Linked DNA regions of Homo sapiens: region 1 is linked to region 2. A link means that fine-mapping ties the variant in region 2 to the expression of a gene that starts in the linked region. Tissue or cell type: whole blood. Region 2 holds a variant in brackets; the other region holds the start of a gene. All regions are shown on one strand. Distances are between the middles of the regions.

What was found. PIP is the estimated chance that this variant, and not a neighbour inherited with it, causes the effect.
Region 1: it holds the start of VPS41, and the variant in region 2 is fine-mapped to the expression of VPS41 in whole blood (TOPMed, PIP above 0.99). The same link has a PIP of 0.9 or more in neutrophils.

The regions. Positions count from the first base shown.
Region 1 is chr7:38,905,908-38,914,021 of GRCh38, forward strand. VPS41 (VPS41 subunit of HOPS complex) reads right to left here and starts at 3,284. Exons shown (of 29, transcript NM_014396.4): 1 at 3,247-3,284. The coding sequence starts at 3,267. RefSeq lists an enhancer at 3,292-3,391.
Region 2 is chr7:38,851,766-38,859,879 of GRCh38, forward strand. The region is part of intron 4 of VPS41 (VPS41 subunit of HOPS complex); the gene reads right to left. Among named protein-coding and RNA genes, the nearest start is that of VPS41, 53 kb to the right of the region's middle. The variant G/A (reference allele first, on the strand shown) is at 3,377.

The DNA.
Region 1 (8,114 bases), 54 kb after region 2:
CTCAGCCTCCCGAGTAGCTGGGATTACAGGCGCCCACCACCATGCCTGACTAATTTTTTTGTATTTTTAGTAGTGACGGGGTTTCACCATGTTGGCCCGTCTGGTCTCGAACTCCTGACCTCAGGTGATCCACCCGCCTCAGCCTCCCGAAGTGCTGGGATTACAGGCATGAGCCACCGCACGCAGCCCTATTTTCTCCATTTTTATACACTTTTAGCTTTAAAAAAATGGTATAATAAAGCCCTACTACCGTCATCAGATTTCAATGGCTTCCTACTGTGAAATGCAAAAACAAATCAGAGAAAAGCCTAACCATTTTTAATCTATAAAGGATAAGATTAGGTACAATTACTTACTTTCTTTTAAAAAAAAGAACTGAACAATTTGTGAATGTGTCTTTCAGCCATTTACAACAGACTGCTGGGTTTTTTTTTGTTTGTTTTTCGTTTTTTTTTTAAACAGGGTCTTGCTCTGTTGCCCAGACTGAAGTGCAGTGGCACGATCATGGCTCACTGCTGCCCCGACCCTCTTGACTCAAGCAATCCTCCCACCTCAGCCTCCCGAGTAGCTGGGACTACACACCACCATGCCTGGCTAATTTTTGTAATTTTTGTAGAGATAGGGTTTTGCTATGTTGCCCAGGCTCGTCTCGAACTCCTGGGCTCAAACAATCGCCCCACCTTGGCCTCCCAAAGTGCTGGGATTACAGGTATGGGCCATTGTGCCTGGTCCACGACTAGTCTTTTTAAGATACTGACACCACTGGAGAGGAGAATGCCCACTCCAACTACATATTGGCTGTTAAAGCATCAAAGTGGAATGGTGGCTTGAGGGAAAATCATTAAAATGGAAAGGGCTAATTCTACTTCATAAAGTAAAAAAACTATTTAGATTTAGGTTCTTACATATATTTTAAAAAGGTAGGGTATTCTAGTGAAAAGTCATGAGCTATGGAGACAGAGGACTGGAGATTTATTATATTATAGATATAAGCCTGAGCACGTTACTCAAGTTGCCTGAATTTCAATTTGTTTATCAGTAAAAGTCAATCATTTAACACAAATTTATTAAGTAACAAGCAATATTCTAGGTATTGGACATACAGCAGTGAACAAATCCTTGTCAGGATGTTCCAAGCTCTGTGGTAAGAGGTACACAGAAATATACAGGGAAAAAAAAAAAAACAAATTTTATAATACAGTATGTCAAACGGTGATGCACATTATAGGGAAAAATAATGCAGGAAGGTTTCAAAGCATGGTCAGGGAAGGTCGCAATGAAAAAGAACACTTGGACAAAGACATGAAGGAAATGAGGAAGCCTGTAAATATCAGGGTTCCTCAAAAAGGAACAGCATGAGCAAAGAGGCCCTGAGATAGGAACCTGCCTGGCTTTTTGAAGACTAAGAGAGCCAGTACAGCTGATGCAGAGTCACAGAAGGGAAGGAGAGTAGTGGGAAAAATGAGGTCAAGAAAAGGTGGCTAAGGGCAGCTGGGTCAAGGTCCTGTGGGACAACCAGGCTACCGTAATGGCTGTGGCTTTTCCTCTGAATAAGATTAGAAGCCCCTGGAAAGTCTAGAATATCAGAGGTGTTTCACCCATGTATGAGAGTAAACATTTACCTCATAGAATTCTTTTGGGAAGACCAAATGCAATATGGAAGGGTTTTTAAAACTAGAAAATAATGTACAAATGTGAAACATTATTATATCCCTAATTTTGTATGTGTCATTTTTATATCAGACAACTTTGTTAAATTCTTCTTCTGCACTAAACAGTGGTAAATATTTCATAGGTTTTTTTCAATGGAAGAAAAAACAATGGTTTTTCTAGGAGCAACTCTCTCCATTTCTATTCCACTATATCTAAGAACATATGAAACTCAGTTTTTTGCTTTCAAATCAAACCATAAAACAAACATTTCAACATGAAATAAAGATGCACAATGTGAAAAACAATCTCACCCTTATTCAAAGGAGCAATGGCAGTCATGAAATGATATGTTCTTAATGAGTGTTTTCCTTTGAACTGCTAGAATGGAAATAGGAGTCTCTAGTGTTAGATAAGAGACTTTGTTATCTTGTTATCACAAGGACCAGCCAAACCAAATTTCTACCTAGTCAAACGTCTCAATTATTGGCATATATAAAATATATACAGAACAAATTTTCACTATGAAGTAAAAACAAATGAAGTATGTTGAAAATAGTAAAAATTATTGAACTAGGTAAATGACTCTTATGATACTAAACAGCCCATCATCAAGTCACTGTTTAGAGACAATGACTGCAACTGACAGCCCTGTTAACTTGTGAAGAAAAACAGTATCCAACTGAAATAACACTGGAAATGGAAACTTAAGTTATCTCCCCCAAGTTCTAGCCTCTTTTTTGGTCTGCTTCTCTTTTTTGTCTTTTTTATTTTACTTCGTCATTTCATAAAATGTGTGATTACCACTACTGCTATATGAAAATAATTCATATTCCCATCACCAATTTCTACCCTAAACTTCAGTGCCACGTTGCCAGTTGTTGACTGGATACTACCAGCAACAAATAATCCCATTTAATTTTTACTAAGCCCAACAGTTCTAAGTACTCTAACTTTGTGTATAAACTCCTCTCTCCATCTTAAACCACCCTCTGAGGACGGCCTTATTATTACCCCCATCTCACACTGGAAAGTTAAATAAGTAGCTCAAAGTAGCACATTGGGTAAGAAAAGGAACCAGCACTTGGACCCCAGGCATTTTTGCTCCAGAACGGATGCATTTAATCCCTGCTGCACCGCAACAGTGCTCCAGCTCTGTACCTAACTCCAATAGATACAAAACAAAACTCATCGTCTACTCTCTCCTAGTTCTTATTGTCCTACTTCAAGTGGAAAGCAACTTAAATTTCAGTCACCCGGCCTCTCTTCCTCCTCCCACAGGCAGTCAGTCCCTGAGGTAGCCGGGCCTGCCTTCATGCCAAAATTTCCCTGGGCAAAGGCCACAGGGATGGGGCCCGAGGAAAGGCAGCCCGAACGCGGGGGTGTGTCAGAGCGCTTTCCCTAGGTGCCCTCCCGGGGCTGGCATCCTCTCTGCTCCCCGAAACCAACTTTCGCCATCCCACCCCGCCCTGCCGCGGACCTGCCTTGCGCTATTCCAGCAGCTCCGCACCTCCACCCACTCCACTCCACCCTCCCCAAACAGCCCACCCTAGTCTCTATATCCCTGTGCCCTCAACTACCACCTGCACCCTTTACCTGCTCCTCTGCTTCCGCCATGGCGCCACGGGAGAGTCACCTGACAGACCCGGAAATAAGAGGAAACCACACACTTGGCCCAGGGCCTTCTGGGAAATGTAGTTTTAGCTTCATCTGAGCCTGGAAATCTCTTCTAGGGGACGGACCTGCTAGGGTTCATTTCTGCTGCCAATTCTCCAAACTCAATGGAATTCTGCTTTGAAGGATGTGAACATAACCATTGCTAATACTATAGCTTATTTTATTGTTGTTCTTGTTTCTCTAGTTATTCTAGTGTTTATTAAGCACTTACTATGTCATGCCCTGGGTTTATAGCTTTGCATAAATTATCTCATTTAATCCTCACAGCAATTCCTACTATCATCCCCATTTATAGGGGAGAATACCGTAGCTCAGAGGTCATGCAGCTAGTAAGAGGCAGAACTAGTAATAGAATTCAGCCCTGCCTGATGCCAAAGTCTCTGTGATTGCCAAATGCTGCTTACTCTAAAAGTGTTCTTGTCCTTTTTTCTCTCTCTTTTTTAAGTATATTCAGTGAATATAAAGCAGTCTTTGCAGTGGAGAGTCAGAGAAAATTTATACGCCAACAAATAATATCATTATTTTTGCTTGCTACTTTGTCTTCTCCTGTCATATGAACATTGATTTAAAAAAAATCTCTGTTGTTTAATAAATTAATTGTTAAACTTTTGTTGAGGATATTCAATAGGTAAATGTTCAAGTGAAGACACAATATGAAGTTGTCCTTGGTCAAAATCTGCACAACCACTGTATTACTTCCAGCCTTCAGAATGACTGATTCCTTCTCCATGTTTCTGAACATTATGAATTCTGTTTCTTAACCCTCAGGAATCTGCAGCACCTTGTCCAAAGACAGACATTTTACAATTTCCATTCACTGGAGTAGCTGGTGACCAGCAGAGGGCATTGCAAATGGCAGCATGTGGTGATTGCCTCAGTACCTTTTTTGACTCCCTGTGCCTCATTGACTCTGACCCAGTAGGAAGTCATGGACTCAGTACTCTGTCTGTAGCTTGCTCAACCCATGATTCCTCAATGGCCCAGAAGCCAAGGTGACATCATCTCTGAGACACCTGTCTTCTCCCCAGGGCCTAAACAGCCTTACCTCCATCTTCTTCCTCCAAGCCTTGCTGGGGTTCCTCTTCCAGTGGGCTAATCACTCAGCCGACAGGATAGACCACCCTGAGGCATTTAAATGTCTATAAGCAGCCAGGTGCAGTGGCTTTCACCTGTAATCCCAGCACTTTGGGAGGCCAAGGCAGTCAGATTTCATGAGCTCAAGAGTTTGAGACCATCCTGGACAACATGGCAAAACCCTGTCTCTACAAAAAATACCAAAAATTAGCCGGGCATAATGGTGTGCGCCTGTAGTTCCAGCTACTCAGGAGGCTGAGGTGGGGGTTAAGGCTGCAGTGAGCATTGATGGTGCCACTGCACTCCAGCCTGGGCAACAGAGTGAGACCCTATCTGAAAAAAAAGAAAAAAGAAAAAAGAAATCCATAAGCAAGCACCCAATGCCCTAAGTATAAACCTAGGGCAAGTATAAACCTAACCCAAGAGTTTCTAAAATCTCTTGCAAAGCAGCCCAGGGCCAAACATTGCTCATGATGAACTCCAGATCCCAGAAAAACTTTAATACAGACCAAAGAGACTGTGGAAGCCCTCAGTCGAGTATCCACGGGAAAGAGAAATAAAATGAGCTCTTCCACTTTTCTGACTTTCCTCACAAACTCCAATTTTCTCTTTTCTGTTATGAGTGACAGCCACCCATAAACCTCTAGGACTACAGCCTCTCCAACTGGGCAATCTCCTCTTCTATGCTGAATGGATGAGATTGGGATGAAGAAGGAAAATAAGGGATTATTACCACTGTCTTAACCACAAGGTCATTTTTGTTTTATGGTTCCATTTTATTTTGGTGAGAAGTCAAGCAGCCCAAGCAAGCAAAGCTGAAGGCCATCCACTCTGGGCCTTCCTGGCCTTTCTACTTTTCTGGAATGAGAATGTTTATTCTCTTTCTCAAGAAGGGTGTTATGGGTCTTATTAAAGATATAGCCAGACTTTATAGGTTTTCCTCTGCTCATTTAACCGTAGAAACTCTCAATTCCCCAAGTTTGTTCCGCATTCAGTATACTCTCTTGATTACAATAAAGTATTATGAGCCTCTTTCCTTTTGGAGAGACTGGAAAAGTGAAGAGACACAGGTATGGAAAGGTGAATTAGAGGAAGAAACCTACTATGAACTAGCAGGTTCGTGCTGGGACAGTGGACAGGATGAAATTCACATGTGACCTCCAAATCCCATTTGCTCATGTGAAGTGAGAGTTTGAGGCTCTCTTATCTAGGTGGTCTTGTATTCTCCAACTACTCTAAGTGTAGTCCAAAGACTACCTGGGAGCTTGTTAAAAATGAAGAATTTGGGGCCCTTTGAGAGATGTATTTAACCACAATCTGGATTTTAATAGTATCCCTCAGTCATATGCATATACTTTCAAGTTTGAGGAGTAGTCAGCCTAACAGTCACTGATTCTGTGTCAAATCACCTGCTCAGTCCACCCTCTCCCAACTTCAAGATACGGAGGTAAAGGGCTGGGCGCAGTGACTCACGCCTGTAATCCCAGCACTTTGGGAGGCCAAGGCGGGCGGATCCCCTGAGGTCAAGAGATCGAGACCATCCTGGTCAACATAGTGAAACCCCGTCTCTACTAAAAATACAAAAATTAGCCAGGCGTGGTGGTGTGCGCCTGTAATCCCAGCTACTCGGGAGGCTGAGGCAGGAGAATCGCTTGAACTCGGGAGGCGGAGGTTGCAGTGAGCCAAGATCACACTACTACACTACAGCCTGGTGACAGAGCAAGACTCTGTCTCAAAAAACAAAAACAAAAACAAAAACTAAAACTAAAACAAAAATGCAGATGGAGGTAAAGGTAAGATTCAACTTCTCATTCTCAGTCTATAGGACCTAAAATTGTTAATAGACTTCAGAAAACAGACCTAAGACCTTATATTTGTAGAGTGGCTCACTGGTTTCAAGGATCTGTCTCATATGTTTGTTTCGTAGGTCTGAAACAGTTTACTAACTCAAATTATAGCCATTTTATTCGTGACAATAGCATTATTTCATTGCTTAAACAATATGAACGGCTTTAATATTTTCCATTATTAAATAGCATTTATAAATTCAGGAAACTTGAAAAATCGGCAAAGTGGACAAAGTTAAAATAATTCACTCTTATGCCCTTGCTAATTAGGGGATGTGTTGTAGATTCTTTTCCCAATCTTCAGCTTCCATTCCTTCTTAGATTGCTACCTTTCTCAATCTACAGGTGTGACAGCTAATGACAAGCAAATTTACACCACATTACACTACTAATTCCAAGCTACAATCTTAGCCTTTATTTAATTAACTGTACCAAATAGCTAAAAGAATATTGATGTTATCTTTAGCAAATTTGGCCAGCCTCAGCTTATTTTGCAGTTTAGTTTTTCCAAAACTGTACCTACTGAAACCTGTTACCTTCTAATATTCTAAATGTCATTTTAAGATATAGCTTATTGGAAATTTCCCTGAGCAACCACATTAGATTTTCTTAATAACATTTTTCTAATTACAAAAGTACTATGTGTTCATAATAGATAACTGGAAAAATACAATAAATTATAAAATAAAATTCTAAAACCACTCATGATTTCTCCACTTAGATTATGATTGTTGGATATATGCCTTTCTTTTTTCTTCTCTTTTTTCTCTCTCTTCCTCCTTTCCCCTCTCTGTCTCTCTGTATTTATTTAAAAACTTGTCCAACAAAGATCATATTACCAAGTTTTGTCATTTTTTTTTACTTAGTCATATTTCAAGATTGTTTCCCAATAACAATCTTGTAAAATATTCTTCTAAAACATGATTTTAATAAAACATGATTTCACATTATAATTCCATCGTATGAAAAGTAATGTATATAATCATTCTATTTTGTTGTATACTTTAAGTACATCTAATTAACATCCCTGTGCATAATTCTGGAAAATGCTATAATGCAAGGTGGTATCAACTGCAGGAATAAAGATCATCCAAATGAGAAATGCCATTGAGGAGTTATTCAGAGCTTACTCTAGAAAGGGAGTCAGCCACCAGCACTTGCGCTGTGGCAGAGACTCAAACACAGGCACAAGAGTGGGAAGGTAGGAAAAGGGAAGGCTTCAGGTAGGCCCTGGTTGGAGGCTGCTGGCATGAGAAAGCTGCAGGTGGGGTAACCAGAAGTGGGGCAACCTATGTGATTGGTAGGGGTGGATATTTGGTTTTCTCTGGTTGCTCTTAGTTGGAAGTGGGAGTAAAAATTAAGGAAGTTGTCAACTACCAATAAAGTCCTGGTCATTTTAGGCTGATTGTTTCAGAGGTTATAGTTAAGGTTCCTGGATTGTTACTAGAGATGGCAGTTTTGACTGTCAGGCTAGATTCCTGGGTTTTCTATTGTGGACAATGGCTTGGTTTCCTGGGCAATTGCTGCAGCTTGCTTCAGACTGTGGGTCAGAGTTCTATTTTAATATCTGGTCTGGCCAGTGCCCCTTTATATATTCAGTCTCTCACAATTTATTCTACAGTGAGCTATATATGAGAGCTCTAAACCCTCCTACCATCAAACATTAGATATTATCATTTTTTACACATTTCATTAATTTAGCTTGGGGAAAATAGTATTAATATTTTAATTTTTGTTTTAACTGTATGTCTTTGATTTCTGATGAGGGGATGTTTTTCATAAATTTACTGGCCATTTTCAACTTTGTTCTGTCCTTTCTACTCTTGCTCTTTACCCATCTTTTGTGGGAAAGTTGATCTTTTCCCT
Region 2 (8,114 bases):
CACCAGCAGTGTATGAGAGTTCTAGTTCCTCCACATCCTAACCAATACTTGGTATGATTAGTCTTTGTAATTTTAGCCATTCTAAAGGTATATTTAGTGGTATGCATTATTCCATTTTAATTAGTTTTAATATGATTTTTTCCTTGCTATAAATTAAACTTAAAAAAAGCTAAAGTGTTAACATTTAATAGCTGCCCATGGAAATAATGAAATTCATCTTAATAGAAGTATAAAATAAAGACTGGGCAACCAAATGACAAGAATGTTGTGGAAGTATAGCCGCACCAGAACAACATGGTTCAACTTCTGGGTGACAAAGTTGTGCGTTTTCAGTTGCCATGGACCCTCAGCTCATGTAACCTGAGCATGCCCAGATGAACCAAGCATGCAACCACAGGGGGAATCTAAGAGCAGGATGAATTAAGAAGCGAACACCACCTAACAGGATCCAGGATCCAATCAGATGGAGCTCTAGCATCACCCCAAGTCAGGATCCAGTAAGATCAGACCTCCCGGCATCACCTCATTGCAAGATCCAGTCAGATCACACCTCATTATCATATGCTTATAAAACCTGACCCAGTCCCCAGCTCCGGGAGACACTGCTTTGAGAACTATCCCTGGTGTTCTCCCTACTTGTTACAAGCAATAAAATCCCTTTACTAAATACTAAATCTTACTAAATCTCCTTGGTTGTGGTCATTGGGTTGATACCTAGCCCAACAATCAAACCAACCTCTTGTGTGGGTAACAAGAACTTCATGTCTTGAGTGGCTAGATGAAAAATATCCATTAAGTATTCAACTATCCTAATATATCATGATCCTATTAAATGAAAAACATTAGAAATTATAGCCAAATAAATAAGTTCTAGAGCAGGTGAATAAAACAAAGCTACACAAACAGAAAAACAGAGCTTGTTTAAGAAAGAAGTATACACTACCATTTTGAAGTATACCCTGTCATGGTTCCCAGAGACTAAGAAGTCTATTATTAACAAAACAAACTCAAGCTTAAAATTATTTATTGTTAAACCATATGCACAGACACTCATACTTTATCCACATATCTGGTCCATGACATCCGATTTACCATCATCCTTCTGGTTCATTTAGTTCCCTAAATACTCTGAACTCCAAAGTCAGTCACCACAAAGACACTCCCTTGAAAACACTCCATTCTTTTTCCTTTGGTCCTTTGGCTAAACCTGCCAAATAATTTGCTCCTATTGCATCTCACCATCCATTCTTTCCTCTCCACTCCCCTACTCCCAAGATACTACTAGATAATTAACACAATATACATGAAGACAAGAAGTCCATGGTAAATGTTCCTCACCCTTTGGTGATTCCCTGTTTCATAAGAAGAATGTGGCCGGGTGCGGTGGCTCACGCCTGTAATCCCAGCACTTTGGGAAGCCGAGGTGGGCGGATCACAAGATCAGGAGATCAAGACCATCCTGGCTAACACAGTGAAACCCCATCTCTACTAAAAATACAAAAAATTAGCTGGGCATGGTGGCTGGCACCTGTAGTCCCAGCTACTTGGGAGGCTGAGGCAGGAGAACGGCATCAACCTGGGAGGCGGAGCTTGCAGTGAGCTGAGATTGCGCCACTGCACTCCAGCCTGGGCGACAGAGCGAGACTCCTTCTCAAAAAAAAAAAAAAAAAAAAAAAGTATCACTGTCTTAACTCCACTCTAACAACCTGGAAAATACACATTCACCTTTCCAGATTCACCTCAAATTTCACTTTCTACAGGTTCCCTGTCTCCCAACTGCAAAGGTGGAGATTCCTCCCCTAGGTCTACACCTTATTCATAATCCTTTTAAAGCTCTTACTTTGCAATAATGGCCTTGAACCCCAAAGAAAGAACCACCAGAACTGAGAGTACCCTGTACTGAAGAATGAAATCCAAAGGCTTCAGACAACTAAGCCCCAGTCTACTACCCAATTCAGAGTCATGTTCCACAAAGTTAAAATTACTTCAACCCTGACTTTGAAATATGTGAAATACCAGGGTAATTTCATTCAGTGAAGGAATATTTTCAGTTTTAGCTATTTAAGGGATATTTGCCTAAATGTAGTTACCACTGAAGGGTCAGATGTTAAAACATTCAGTAAGTATGACACTTTACTCTAAAAGAGAGAAGCATCCTTAATTCTGACCATGTTTTCTTAGCCACTTTGGTGCGTAGAAGCCATCAAAATTATCAAGTTATCTATAAATACTTAACCCACAAACTTGAGATTATTTTTTAATGCAGACAACTGGAAATATGACTTGCCTTGGCATCATTTATCAGAAGTTAGAATGATTTCCATTTAAGTAATTTTCAATTCCTTTGACACATCTCTTATCACTCAAAATACGGGGTTCAAATATAGAAAACAAGTTCTTTAAACACACAAGAATCTGAGACCTGTCAATCAGTCTTAAACAAGTATTACAGGCACTGGCACACTTGAGCCAACAATGAACCACTTTGATCATATCAAAAAGATACATGCCCTGCTTGCCAATTAATGATGCCACATCTAGAACAGCATACTACAGATGGTATTTGCTTCAGGTCGATAAGTGAGTACCATTAGACCAAGAGTAGAGCAGGGTTCTTTGTTCAAGGATACATAGCTTAAGTTTATAGATCTGCTCCAAAGATTCTTTCAATGAACAGTCACCCAACATCACACTGGCCACATTATGAATAAGCCCAAAAGAGTTAGGCTGTTTAGGTGAATAATGAATGTATGGCATCTGTATTAACTGTCAAAGAGATGGTCATGGCCATACAATTTCCTATAATGTACACACAATAATCCTGATATGGGAGAGGAAGGTATGAAAAAAACCTTGATTATCTGGAAAATAGTCTAAATATGTGAAACTGCAGATTTGGAACTATGGATTAGTTCAGCGAACTTCTATCAATTTCTTATTTCTATCAGTTCACCAGCTTTTATGTTGAGCACTGATGATGCAGAGATAAATTACACAAACTGTCCTCAGGAAATTAGCATTCTATGTGGAAAATGACATTGAGGCATATAATTGTGACAAAAGTACCGTACGTTCAAGAAGTGGAGAAAAAAAAAAAAAGCAAAGTGGAGGTAACACAAAGAAGGAGATGGTTAAGCCATGTAAAGGATAAAAAAAAAAAGTGGGCCAGGCGTGGTGGCTCACACCTGTAATCCCAGCACTTTGGCAGGCCGAGGTGGGCGGATCATGAGGTCAAGAGATCGAGACCATCCTAGCCAACATGATGAAACCCTGTCTCTACTAAAAATATGAAAACTAGCTGGGCATAGTGGCACATGCCTGTAGTCCCAGCTACTTGGGAAGGCTGAAACAGGAGAATCACTTGAACCTGGGCGGC[G/A]GAGGTTGCAGTGAGCTGAGATTGCGCCACTGCACTCCAGCCTGCTGACAGAGTGAGACTCCCTCTCAAAAAAAAAAAAAAAAAAAAAAGGTGTTTGTGAATACTAAAAATGAAATTTAAGCAGCTTAAAGGAACACTGAATCTTCACGATGATACTGTCAAAGAGAGAGGAGAGAAGGAAAATGATCATTTCTTTTGCTGAAACATGAAAAAAGAGATGGGTGATCCTCCAGACACTCATACATCAATCCAAAGCAAAGAGAAAAGAGGAGCTGATTTATATTAGAAATAAATTCTTCGCAGCCAAAGAAAGCAACAAAAGGTCAGCAATACAGTCCAAAAGATGGTCGAGTCCCAAAGTCCAGGGAGAAAAATGAAACCATCATCACTCACAGATGAGGAACCAGTCACAAAAACATGTTTTGAAACTCAGGTTAGGGAAGTGCCCTAATAAGAATGTTTCGCTACATAAGGGAGGTCTTGAATGTACAAGGAGATAAGGGTGGAAGAGTAGTGGGCATGGAATACATAACCAGAACAGCTCAAGCCCAATTTACACACTTCCTTCCCTGATACCGTTTGCATCTGGAATGATCTTTTAAAGTCTCTTTAGCTTCTAAACTTTGATGACTTTATACATTACCCATAGCAACTAGAAAATGTATGAGTATATATTAAAAACTTAAATACTGCTGAACATAAGGGTTACTTTCCAAAAGTAAGATTTAAGACTCTGATCTTATATTAGTCAGCTTGAACTGCCATAACAAAATATCATAGAGTGGCTTAAACAACAGAAATTCTCCTAGTTTTGGAGACTGGAGGTCCTCAATCTGCCAGTATGGTCACATTCTGGTGAGGGTTCTCTTCCTGGTTTGCAGACAGCCTTCCCGCTGTGTCCTTATATGGCCGGCAGGAAGGGGGAGGAAGGGAAGGTCTCTCCTGTCTCTTCTTATGTTGGCACTAATCTCATCTTGAGGACTCCACCCTCATGACCTCATCTAAATTGTTTTTAACTTGTTTTTGTTTTTAAGAGACACAGTCTTGCTCTGTCAACCAGGCTAGAGAGTGCAGTGGTGCAATTATAACTCACTGCAGCCTAGAACTCCTGGGCTCAAGTGACCCTCCTGTCGTAGCCTCCTGAGTTTACACCATGCCTGGCCCTCATCTAAATTTAATTACCCCCCAAGTCCCCAATTCTAAATACCATCACATTGAGGGTTAGGACCTCAACATATGAATTAGGAGGTGGGGAAGAATTCAGTCTACAGTAGCTCTCAGTATAAAATTTCTAATTATACATCCAATGGACAAGTGAAGGTAGAATAATACACAGGAGAACAGAGAACCAGCTCCCAGAGGCCTCCTGAAAGGTAGTAACAGAAAATCACCAGTTCCATGGTTATGTTTCAAAACAATATTATCAGCCAATATATACTTACTGGATACCAAACGGCAGCAGAGAAAAGAGAAAGGGTGGGGAAGAGGAGAGAAGTATACCAGGAGACATGGCAACTATCCTCCAAGACGTTAAATAGGAATGTGAGGCTGGTACTGACACTATGAGGGGCCACACTACAAGTGAAATAGTAGTAATATAGGAGTTTACAGGAAGGAAACACCTCAGGGCTACAATCCAGGGGAAGTACCTTGCAGAAAGAATGGAGATTCACAGAAGTGTATTCTAGAGAGAAAAGAAGTCATCAAAAGCTTAGAAACAGGCAAGCCCATGGCAATATTTAGAAGGTAGTGAGCAGATAAAAATTACTAGAGAGGGAAGAAATTAAAACTAAGATTAGAAAGGTGGGTTTCACCAAATGATCAGGGTCTGGAATGCTTAGCTAGATAGTTAGGACTTGATGTGGGAAGTAACAAAGAACTGTGAAATGTTCTCAGAGACACAATGGTTAGATGGACAGAGGTCTGGGTTTTTATCAGCACATGAACACGAAAGGTATCAGCAACTAAGGAATACAGTCCATTAGTTTAATCTCAAATCAAAAACAGGAATAGAAATACCAATAGATTCTGCTACCTGACAAGGAGAATCATCAACCCACCTCTGCCTCAAGAGTTTAATTTCAAAAATTTGATATTTATCTTAACACAAAATGGCCACTAAGCTCCTGTTTTGTTTTAATCTCCTTTTTTTGTAATCATCCATTTTATAAATATTTATATAATGTCTCTTACTATAGTGCCTTACAGCAAAACCTCATCATTTTCTATTTCTAGCAAAGAAAGAAAAACACATAAAGGTGAACAGTAGAAATTTATGTTTGATCAGCAAGTTGTTTGCTCTCTCACTAGCACACTTAAAGGAATAAATATTTAAAACACATGGCATAATGCTCCTAAATATTTAACAGAGACATGGCACAATAATTTGATCACTGCTTCAACATAAGTACCCTTAATTAACAAGTTTTAAATTAAAATGCTTAAATAAATTGGAGGCTATTAAAGAAAAAGTAACTACAGTCATGCACTACATAACAACATTTTGGTCAACAAGAGACCACATATACCCACTGTTGACTAAAAAGCCAAATTGTAAAATACTCGAAGAGATTTATTCTGAGCCAAATGTAAGGACCATGACCCATGACAAAGCCTCAAGGGGTCCTCAGAACATGTGCCCAAGGTGGTTGGGTTACAGCTTGATTTTATGTTTTAGGGTGACATAAGACATCAATCAATACATGTGAGGTATATATTGGTTTGGTCCAGAAAGGTGGGACAACTCAAAGAGGAGATGAGAGGAAAGAGGGATGGTTTACAGGTCATAGGTAGATTCAAAGATGTTCTGACTGGCAACTGGTTGAAAGAGTTAAGTTATCAGCAGAAAGAATCAGCAGAAAGGAGTACCTGGGTTACGATAAGGAGTTGTGAAGACCAAGGTTCTTACTATGTAGAAGAAGTCTTATAGGTGGCACCCTTAGAGGTAATATACGGCAAACGTTTCCTATTCAGACCTTTAAGCTACTCTCTTCAGGATCAGAAAAAGACCTGGAAAGGGAAGGGGATTCTCTACAGAATGTAAATTTTCCCCAAAAGAGACAGCTTTGCACAGCTATTTCAAAATATGCCAAAGAAATATATATTAGGGCAAAATACTTTGACTTCTTTCAGGGCTTGCTATCTGTCATGTGATGCTATATTAGAGTCAGTTTGGAATCTGGTATCTTATTTCCTTTCACACTACAAAGAGTCTGTTTTGTCAGTCTTAAGATCTGTATCTTAATGTTAATGCCGGTCAGTTGTGCCTGAATTCCAAAAAGAAGAGAATATAATGAGGCATGTCTGACTCCCCCTTCCCGTCATGGCCTGAACTAGTTTTTCACGAATCCTAAGAGGAGTCCATTCAGTAGACTGAGGAGCTTAGAACTTTATTTTTGGTTTACACCATAGACTACAGTGGTCCTATAAGACTGTAATGCTTTACAAGCTATCTTTTCCTAAACATTTAAATAAAAAAAGATTATAATGGAGCTGGAAAATTCCTAACACTCTGTGTCACTGCAGCCTAGTAACAGCACAGCACAACATGTTACTCACGTGTCTGTGATGATGCTAGTGTAAACAAACCTAGTCAGCTGCCACTCATATAAAGTCTAGCACACACAATTATGTACTACATAATACGTGATAATGACAATAAATGACTATGTTGCTGGCTTATGTATTTACTATACTATATTTCTTATTGGTATTTAGAATATATTCCTCCTACTTATAAAAAAAGAAGTTACCCATAAAACAGCCTCAGGCAGGTCCTTCTGGAGGTATCAAGAAGAAGGCATTGTTATCACAGGAGATGACAGCTCCATGTGCGTTACTACCCCTGAAGGCCTTCCAGCAGGACAAAATGTGGAGGTGGAAGACAGTGATATTGATGATCCTGGCCCTGGGTAGGCCTAGGCTAATGTGTGTGTTTGTATCTTCATTTTTAACAAAAAGTTTTAGAAGTAAAAAAGAAAAAAAAAACTAAACAGAAAAGAGCTTATAGAATAAATACATAAAGAAATATTTTGTACATCTGTACAATGTGCTTGCTTTAAGGTGTGCTATTATAAAGTCAAAAGTTTTAAAATTAAAAAGTTTATAAAGTAAAAAAGTTACAGTAAGCTAAGGCTAATGTATTAGTGGAGAAAGAAAATGTTTAAATAAATTGAGTTTAGCCTAAGTGTACAGGGTTTATAATGTCTACAGTAGTGTACACTACTGTCCTAAGCCTTCACATTCACTCACTGCTCATTCACTGACCCACCCAGAACAACTTCCAGTCCTGTAAGTTCCATTCATGATAAGTCTCCTGTACAGATGTATCATTTGTCATCTTTTATACCATATTTTTATGGTATCATTTCTATATTTAGGTATGTTTAAATGCACAAATACTTGCCATTGTGTTCCAATTGCCTATGGTATTCAGGACAATAATATGCTGTACAGGTTTGTAGTCTAGAAGCAACAGGCTATACCATACAGCCTAAGTGTACAGTAGGCTGTACCACCTAGGTCTGTGTAAGTAGAGGCTATGATGTCTGCACAATGACAAAATTGCCTAACGCCACATTTCTCAGAATGCATCCCACTGTTAAACGACGCATGATTATACTATGATTAATGTGGTTATATGGGCATAAATATCGTGGGAATTTAAAAGGAATCTAAGATTTTATAAGAATTCTGAAGTCACGTTATTTTACTCTGAGTTAAGTAAAATTGCTTTAGC